Linked DNA regions of Homo sapiens: all the other regions are reported to be linked to region 3. Evidence: microRNA targets listed by miRTarBase, many of them from high-throughput screens and not tested one by one. Region 3 holds a microRNA gene; each other region holds the end of a gene's coding sequence.
Evidence for each region. The annotated mature microRNA hsa-miR-3691-5p reads AGUGGAUGAUGGAGACUCGGUAC and lies in region 3 at 1,778-1,800, opposite strand. An mRNA with a match to its seed (bases 2 to 7 or 8) in the 3' UTR can be bound and repressed. Matches are read on the target gene's strand: a 7mer-m8 pairs with bases 2 to 8, a 7mer-A1 pairs with bases 2 to 7 and ends in A, and an 8mer does both.

Region 1: the mRNA of MRPL10 is a reported target of hsa-miR-3691-5p. Seed matches in the 3' UTR shown: 7mer-m8 at 1,094-1,100.
Region 2: miRTarBase lists ST18 as a target of hsa-miR-3691-5p. Seed matches in the 3' UTR shown: 8mer at 1,592-1,599.

The regions. Positions count from the first base shown.
Region 1 is chr17:47,821,656-47,824,655 of GRCh38, reverse strand. It overlaps MRPL10 (mitochondrial ribosomal protein L10), which reads left to right. Exons shown (of 5, transcript NM_145255.4): 5 at 198-1,384. The coding sequence ends at 451. OSBPL7 (oxysterol binding protein like 7) reads left to right here and starts at 2,862. Exons shown (of 23, transcript NM_145798.3): 1 at 2,862-2,990. RefSeq lists an enhancer at 2,404-2,573 and a silencer at 2,684-2,899.
Region 2 is chr8:52,110,182-52,113,535 of GRCh38, reverse strand. It overlaps ST18 (ST18 C2H2C-type zinc finger transcription factor), which reads left to right. Exons shown (of 26, transcript NM_001352837.2): 26 at 198-2,698. The coding sequence ends at 338. Among named protein-coding and RNA genes, the nearest start is that of ST18-AS3, 83 kb to the left of the region's middle.
Region 3 is chr6:5,146,509-5,149,862 of GRCh38, forward strand. It overlaps MIR3691 (microRNA 3691), which reads right to left and starts at 1,814; the gene lies at 1,725-1,814. All of the region lies in intron 2 of LYRM4 (LYR motif containing 4), which reads right to left. All of the region lies in intron 3 of LYRM4-AS1 (LYRM4 antisense RNA 1), which reads left to right.

The sequences.
Region 1 (3,000 bases), not on the chromosome of region 3:
TTTTCTGAGGGAAGAGTGAAGAAGTAGGGATCGATCCCAAGCAGAGTGGGTGTGGTGTGGGGCACAGTGGAACCCAGGTCCTGGGGAAGGCAGGATTTTGAGAAGGGCAATGGAGAGCAAGTTACTAGGGTCAGAATATTGTTTTCAGAGAAGAAAGGCAATCTGCAAGGAGCCTAACTGACCCTGTGTTCTTCCAGGTGGCTGCATTGATGACACCATCCTCAGCAGGCAGGGCTTTATCAACTACTCCAAGCTCCCCAGCCTGCCCCTGGTGCAGGGGGAGCTTGTAGGAGGCCTCACCTGCCTCACAGCCCAGACCCACTCCCTGCTCCAGCACCAGCCCCTCCAGCTGACCACCCTGTTGGACCAGTACATCAGAGAGCAACGCGAGAAGGATTCTGTCATGTCGGCCAATGGGAAGCCAGATCCTGACACTGTTCCGGACTCGTAGCCAGCCTGTTTAGCCAGCCCTGCGCATAAATACACTCTGCGTTATTGGCTGTGCTCTCCTCAATGGGACATGTGGAAGAACTTGGGGTCGGGGAGTGTGTTTGTCACTTGGTTTTCACTAGTAATGATATTGTCAGGTATAGGGCCACTTGGAGATGCAGAGGATTCCATTTCAGATGTCAGTCACCGGCTTCGTCCTTAGTTTTCCCAACTTGGGACGTGATAGGAGCAAAGTCTCTCCATTCTCCAGGTCCAAGGCAGAGATCCTGAAAAGATAGGGCTATTGTCCCCTGCCTCCTTGGTCACTGCCTCTTGCTGCACGGGCTCCTGAGCCCACCCCCTTGGGGCACAACCTGCCACTGCCACAGTAGCTCAACCAAGCAGTTGTGCTGAGAATGGCACCTGGTGAGAGCCTGCTGTGTGCCAGGCTTTGTGCTGAGTGCTGTACATGTATTAGTTCCTTTACTGCTGACCACATTGTACCCATTTCACAGAGAAGGAGCAGAGAAATTAAGTGGCTTGCTCAAGGTCATGCAGTTAGTAAGTGGCAGAACAGGGACTTGAACCAAGCCCTCTGCTCTGAAGACCGCGTCCTGAATTTCTTCACTAGAGCTTCCTCATCAGGTTACCCAGAAGTGGGTCCCATCCACCATCCAGGTGTGCTTGGATGTTAGTTCTCCACCCTCGAGGTGTACGCTGTGAAAAGTTTGGGAGCACTGCTTTATAATAAAATGAAATATATTCTACTTCCTTTATTTTGTGGTTTACACGGTTGTCCTCCCTCTAAACTTACTCTCAGGGGCTTCTCTGTCATCTGACTTTCCTCACTCTTGCTTCCCTTCCTAGGAAAATCCTCTTCCCCTATACCTGTTCCCACAAATGGCATCCCGCGCATGCTTGCCCTATTAAAGGCAGCTGACAGCTGTACCCACTAGCTAACGTGTCTCTGGTGGTTCTGGACAAAAGGCCTGCGGGAAAACTAGGATTCTCTATTAATGGGGAATTCTGAGAGCTCTAGGGTAGGAGGCCTCATGCAAGTCTTCATGAACCAGAAATTCCTAATAAAGGAGACGGGATGCTTAACTCAGAGTCCACCATCATCCTTGACTGGAGCACATTCTGGGTGGATGCAGGGGTGACCCGGGGAAGGTGGCTGTTCAACATTCCTTCTCGGACTTGAAGCAATGCCACCGCTTCCTTAGTCTTGGACAGGCACTGTCTGGCAGGGATGACCTGCAGCAGCTCTTTTGTGGCCTGGGCCAGGACCAGCTTCCCCCAGTGCCTCATCCTGTGCTGTATGCCCAGGGATGTTCAATCACTGGGAAGTGGCTTAAAAGGCCCTTGAGGCTCCTGGATGCCAGAGCTTGTCTGGTCAGTGCTGCCCAGTGCTCCTGTCCCTCCCAGAACCCTGCCAGGTGCTAACAACACCCTCCTCCTGGGGTGGCTGGAGCAGCACTGAGGCTCTGAATAAAGGCAAGACAGTGGGTGTTCCCGAGAGATATGTGAGACCCTGAAACGTAAACCAAGCTCGGTGAGGATGAAGTGGAAGGGATAAGTGGCCCATGTCACTTTTGGGGTCAGAGAAGAAACTTGAATCACATCCTTCACCTGAGGCCCCACCTACTTCTTTCCAGAAAACTTAGCTGCGCTTGAAACTGTAGGTCTATGCCACATTCATTTGAATGAATTTTAGATCTTTGTTAAGAGCCGATTTTTCATTAGAATTGAGCAGCTGGGCACAGTACTCCAGCAGAAGGGTAAAGGGAAGGGAGGGGACCAGCATTGCAGCCCTTTTAACGGCAGCTGTGACTGCCCCAGGCCTGCTCCTGATCAGAGACTGCAGGCTGTGGGGTGTCTTCATACACACAAGCACTTTCAGATCTCCATGGGGCCTGACCTAGTGGGGCATCACCCCAGTGAAGGGCCTCAGTGTGGGGACTGCTGGCTGTCCCTTTCCTGGCTTGACTGCCCCTGCTGACTGTGCTCTTGGCACTCTCTTATGGTCCCAGAGGGGGCATCTGTCCCTCCACCATCAACCTGATACTTTTGCTGGCTCCAAATTTTGCAGTCTATTTTCAGATGTAAAATGAGAGGCGGGGGGCGGGGGTTAATTAGGAATTGGCCTTGGGTACTAACAGGGTCACTGCCATGCTAGTCTGAATAAATCCTTTATCACCACTGGCGTACAGCCAACAGTTCCCCAGTCCTCTGATCTATCTGGAACCATGCCCAGCAGGGACTGTGCCCCCACTCCCAAGCCACATCGATGCTAGGGCAGTCTGCTCAGCCCTGAGTCCTCCGGGGAGCAGGGGGGCAGAGCTGAGCGGCTGCCCGGAGCTTGGCGGGAGGAGGGGACAGGGGAGAGGGAGGTGGGGAGATCCGGCTAGAGGGGAGGCTCTGACATCTCCTTCCTTCCTGGTTCCTGCAGCAGCTGCTGCCACTGCTCAGCGCGGTGAGGAGGGAGCCGGTGACTCGGAGACGGTGACTCAGAGGCAGAGCGGCGCAAGGGCCAAGGAGTACTGGCGTCCATGGACCCTGGGGTAAGGGGGC
Region 2 (3,354 bases), not on the chromosome of region 3:
TCGTCTCCTGAATTAAGAGTGAACAGATGAATCCCACACACACTCCGTCTCTCTCCATCCCCTGCAACCCCAGCAGTCATATGCACCCTTGCCTTCCCTCCCGACTCCCGGATCACTGATCTTCGATGTCACTGGGTCCTTCTTTTCCCTCAGCCTGAACCACTGTGATTGGGTCAATGTGTTTTGTCTCCATTTAGGGACCTATCAGTGAGCAGAATTTTGAAGCATATGTAAATACACTCACAGATATGTACAGCAATCTGGAACGGGACTATTCCCCGGAATGCAAAGCTCTACTGGAAAGTATCAAACAGGCAGTGAAGGGTATCCATGTGTAGGATCACAGCGCTGCCGGGCAACAGAAGTTACCAACAGCAGTAAACTCCAGATGGATCTGTTAGAGGTTCATGTACTGCTAAGGCGTGGAGGTTGCCGTACTGCATTTACAATTTGCAACATTGCACTAATTTTATTTTCCCCAGCTGATATAAAAAGGAAAGAAAAACTATGATAGACTTCTTGGATTAAAAGCAATGCAGTCAATTATTAGATCTTATTTATTTTCATATGTTTTTCTTTTATTTCTTCATTGTACTCTTTTTTTTTTTGTAAAGTATATGTAAAATAAATGTGACATTTTTATAATTTATTTATTACTAATCAAAGAGTTTTTTATCTTTTAACTGCATTTTGAAGTCTGCCGTATTTTTACAAGTGTGTTTATTAATTTATTTTCCAATAGGATTTAAATAGAAATGCTATTCTCAAGTCATCTTTCTTGCTGGGTTTTAATGAGGAAACAGGAAAGGGTGAAGGAAATCCTTGTCTAAGGACTGCACTATAGTTGAGTTTGATTTTTATTGCACACTTCTTCCCCCACCTTTCACTGATTTTTGTATTTATAAATGAATTTGCGGTAAGGTGAGCTGCACGGAAGGAATAAGAAGACAAATGGCGCCCACTAGTGGGGAATCCGCACTCACAAAAGCACAGGATGCTGGAAAACAGCCTGCTCAGAATTTGTTAGCAATAATTAAATATAGCAATCAGCAAAGTATTCGACTTGGCTGGACGGTTTTCGTTAATATGAATTATTTATTTGAAATGTTTTAAAGAAACATAAGCCTTTTTAGTGATGCAGATTTGTCTGTTTGTTTTTCAAGTCATATCAGATCGTTGGCAACTCGTATCCCAAGATGAAAAATAAGACTTGGTGTGACCAGCCAGGCTTTCCTGCCATATGTTGGTACAATATACAAGTGACAATATTGGTGTAGATTTGTACTTAGCAAATACAAACACATCCAAATGAAAAATTTTGTAGATACCATATCCCCTGAAATAGCATTTATCTTACTGGGTTGACTGGAAAGGAATGGAAAATATAGTAACACATGAAAAAATGCTACTCCAATCTGAATGATTACTTCAAACACTGGCACCTTGGGTCTCACCCACCATAGGAAACAAGACAACATTCAATTTGATAGAAATCTTGCCACAAAACTTCAAATGCTACAAAATATACACACACACTCACACACACAGGCATACTCACACACAGACACACACACACACACACACACAGACTCATCCACACTTCAAATTGAGCCCACAATCTTGAATTTCTGAACGGATCAGAGTTTCATAGTTTCTATAGTAAAGGCAATGTCTATTTCAGGGATTGTAAAGTAGTTAAGCATTGTTTCAAAAGTTTTTTTATATTTATTTTTTTTAAGGAAAAGGTATAGACAACCAGCTAAACTGCCTTTTTGGTGTGCACACACATTTCATGTGCAGACGTGCCTCTGTGTAAATGTACACATGAACTTCATGTGGGCTTAATTTTCTGTGCTATAAACAAAAGTGTTTATTTTTTATTAACCTCATGGATATTTAGATGGAAAGTGATGGCATTCACAGGCTTGATGTATTCCACTGTTATTACTGTTACCTGCACAAATGAAAAACAATACTCAACAGTAATTCCACTCCCATGAAACTTTGGTCATTGTTATGCATTAAGTGGGGCTTATCTTTGGTTTGGAGTTCATTTGAACTCTTGAACCTTAGTTTAGTGAAGATGAACTGTCTGTTCTTAGGTAGAAACGGTGTTTATTTAAAAATCAGTTTTAAAAAATGAGCTACCATATGTGCTGTCTATTATAAATGGGACACCAAACAAAATTTTCTATTACAGTTGTGTACTTGCAAACATTTTGCTATACAGTACTTCATAGATGCATACAAATGAGCTCACTTATTACAAAGACAAACGTTTAATTTGCTAAATATTTTAACAAGTTTGTTATATATTTTATTTAATTTAAAAGAAATCTCTTACCAACCTACATATTTATTACTATAATTTGCTATGACTTCAGGTTAATTTATTTGTGTTTGCATAGTTTGAGCAGGATGTTTTGTGAAGTATGTTTGTATTTATTTGCCTACTTTGTACTTGATGTGTTTTGTAATGTGCACTGAATTTGTTTTCTTTTCAACTATGTTAATGATCAATACTGTAAATTGGGTCTTTTGTAAACAAAAAGGCAATGATGTATGCATTTTTTTTAATTTGAGGTAGTTTGTTTGTATACTGTTTCTCCAAACACTTAATATTTCTTACATCAAAGCAACAAAATTGTGTTCAGTGCTGTACATTTGGTGTATGGTAGGAAATAAAAATTGATAACGAGTTTTGATGTGATCTTTCTCAGGCTGTTATCTGGAGACTAGTATCCCCTTCCCATGGAATCCACTGTCCAGAACGAGCCCTGGTGAGGTCCCCAGAGTGCACTTGAGCCTGCCAGTCATTCGGAGACATTTCTGTTCTGACAGCCGGTTTGCTTGCCTTAAAGTGGACAGGACTTTTGGCCAGTTGACAAGCTGTCACTGCCTTTGATGTGGCATTCACCTCCAGAACAGGGAATGCTTTGACATAAGGAACACCTTTGCTAGCAGTAGCAGCAAATTCACTCAGATCTAATAAGTGGCAAGATAGAGGGCCCACCCTCCTGATTCCAAAATTACTTTGGATACGGAGTATATCTCTAGATTCATATAAGCTAAAATTAAAGAAACTTGAATTAAAGAAAAACAATAATAAATTACTGATAGCACCTCTTCTGCTTATGTGTTCTTTCTATCTAATGTCAAATAGTCAGCCTAATTTAATTTTTCAGTTTCTGTCCAGATTCATACATCTCTAGAATAAGTTTCCACTTACATTTGATCTGGTTAAAAAAAAATCTATTTAACCCATGTAATGAAGCCAAATTGACCGAAGGGAAGTCTGGGTCCAAAGAGGAAAGCCAGAGTTGTACTTGGGAGACCTTCATTTACCAGGAGCCA
Region 3 (3,354 bases):
CTTGTGAAACGCAGGCCCCACTCAGTGGCCCACTCCACAGCTACCCTCCTTCCTTCTCAACACAGCCCCAATTTCCCCCTGAAGCGGGCCTCTTCCCAGCACAGCCCCCAGGCATCAATCTTGCTTGACGTTAGGCAGTTGTGGTGGGGCCCAGCTACCTGTCCAGTGAACAGCTTAGGAATAATTGCATACCACAACTCTGGCCAAAGTGGCTAGAGGAGGGGGTTCCTGGGCCTTCTGCAAAAGGGTTCTTTCCTCTCAAAAGAAGACAAGACTCAGGGGCTTTTCTATTTTTACTGTTGGACACTGCTAAGCTGGAGCCAGGAGGCCGGTCTGTGGGCAGACACACTGTTACATGAAATAATTCCAATACATTCTCACATCAGGGATTTAGAGGGAAAGTGAGAGACCATCAAAGATGGCCATTTTAGGTCAATTTACAGAAAAGCAGAAGAGCATGTGAGAGCTCAGCACTGAGATGGATGGAATGATTTCCCCATCATCTATCCCCCAGAGGCAGGGGCTTTTCCTAGTTGGCAGTCAAACCCCAGTGGCCTGCTGGAAGCCATTGGTACCAGGCCATTGGTATTACTTGAGTAGAACTGGGATTTATGTTTTCATGATGATCCTAATTGGGTCACAGGTAAGCTTTGCTGTGATGTTTGTGTTTGAGTCCACAAAAAAATTTTACAGTAATTTAAACCTGTATTTATGTTTGATACGAGCTCATTTTGTTACCTTAACAAAACAAGGGTGTGCTGGGATTTTGTTTTCTTTAAGCAGTTTAATGACTCCAGGAAGTAAACGTGTGTAGTTATGGTCTAGCTAAAGTCACTGATGTCATATTTTAACCTGGATTTTGGGTTAAATAATGGATAACGTACCTAATTAGGCTACCAGTAAACAATCACTGCAGGATTTCACCTAAAATGCCAGTGACCAGAAGTAGATGGTGTCCTCTTTCTCTGAAAACTGGGGATCAATGTGAGGTTACAGTTGAAACTATGGGTTATCAATGTCCACAGAATATACTGGCCCTAGGTAAGTAGAAAAAGTCCTTGAATTTGCTTAACCAAACTTTACATATGCTCATGTGACTACCTGTTTTATACATGGATTCCTTTTCATCTTTGAAGGAAGACAGGAAACAGGGATACTAAAATTCACATTCAGAAAATATTTCCATGTAGAGACGTCCATCTCCCCTCGGTTCTCTCCCTACTGCCTAAACATGCTTTGTTAGCAGGCCAAGTCAGACGTGGTCCACGGCAGGGTGAATTAGGCCCTTCTGTCTCATCGCTCCTTCCTTTTTAATATTCCCGAGGAAGTAACAGTATGGTACTTATTAAGCCAAATTTTCCTGGAAGCTCCAGGTCTCATTGATAGCCACGCTGATGAGAGATTACTGTCCGACTTTCCTTTTGTAAATTAGTGGGCAACTGGTTCTCTCCACATGGAGCGGGAAAACAATCTCTGTCTTCTTTCAGTTCCAGAACACACCAAGCTCGTTAGCACTCCCCAGGCCACCTGCCCTCCCCCACTCTCCCTTCACGTCACCTTACTCATCACCAGGTCCCAGATGAAAGAGCTCTTGCTCACAGAAGACATCCGTGACTGGTGTCCCGGCCACCCTCCCAGCCCGCCCTTTTGAACAGCACGTCTTACAGCTGGTTGTGTTTTACTCACCCGCATGCTCGTTTGTTGAACATTGGCTCCCAGACCGTTTGAGGCACTGAGGAGAGGATGACGCAGACTTGGTCCCCACCCTCAGCAGTGGGTACCGAGTCTCCATCATCCACTACCCAGTGCCTCAATATTCACTGAAACGTAAAAGCAGGAAGGAGAAGCAAAGACCTTTATGAGCCTCAAGGCTATGTGACACCCACAGATCAGCAGGGTATGCAGGACTTCCCGTGCTGTGTGGGGAGAGTTAGAATTCTGAATCGTAATCCTGAGCTGGGCTGAGGGGGCAGAGTTAGAACTCTGTATCGTAATCCTGAGCTGGGCTGGGTATACGCCTTGAACAAGTCATGGTGCCTTCTAAATAGTCTCAAGTGCAAAACATGGATGAGAAAATGAGAAAAGTTATAGAAAGTATTTTTTAATGAAAGAATTCATATTAGGTGACAGGTAATGACCTTTACACACACACACCTCTCTCTCTCTCTCTCTCTCTGCTTATAGTGACTGAGAAATCAGCTCTCCCATAACTTTACCAACAATAATTCTTGAAGATGAGAGCCTCTTGTCTGAAATCATTTTCCATTTATAGTTATATGAAAGATATAATGGAATAACTGCTAATTAAATCTATAAATATACATATAAAAATTACCTTGTCATTTGTAGCGCGCTTCCAAGTATAAAATTAAACGTGGTTCTGAATTTTTCCCCTAGAACTCTAAGTTTTCATTTCTTAATCGTCTAGAATAGCTCCTTTAATAAAATTTCATTTTTGACATGATGCTTGCTTGATATTTTAAAACTGTACTTTAAACCTGAAATTTCACATTAATTATTATATTTTTAGGATTGGAAAATGACACCATCTTTCAGATAAATGATTGGATGAGTAATATTTAGCCAATTTCGCTTTCTGTTGCAGGTACAGTTCTGAGTGTTCATTAATATTCAATGAAATTTCCATCAGTATGTATGATATTTTCAGGTTTTCAAAAATAAGTGAAATAGGCACTAATGTGGTGATAACACTAAAATGAGGGCCTGAAAGAAGCCCCGACACGTGGGAAAAGCCTGCTAACAAAGACGCACTGCAACAGAAAGACCTCACAGGAGAGGCCCTTCAACCCAGGATCGGTATTTTATGGCATCAGCTCATTAATTCCTCCAGGTCCCCAGGACACAGATATCAAGGATGGTGTCAGGCTCATTATCTCAGACACTGAAACTGAGGCTAGGGAGATTTTCAGTGGTTAACCAAGGTCAGATAGCATGTCGTAAAGCTGGGATTCAAACCTCTTTACATGTCTGCTTTCAAAGTCGTAGCTCAAACCACTGATCCTTATTGCTTCTCCAGAGAGATATTCTCCAAAATACTCTAGAATTAGGGGAAGCATTAATCTGAAAATCTTGGTATGTCTTCTGGGGGTGGGGGTGGGAAGAGGAACCCTGAAGTCCCTGACTACTGTGGAGATGAGGATATCAGAGGGCTTCTTATAAAGTTCTCATTGGAATAATAAAACTATGAGGTAATAGAAAATCTGGACCAAATTATATATACATTATTTAGATACGTAAACATCAGATACACAATTCCACTTAAAAGCATGCCTGTCCACACATGGACACACATATGCACAACAGGCAGGTGCAAGCCATTCCCAGAACATGTCG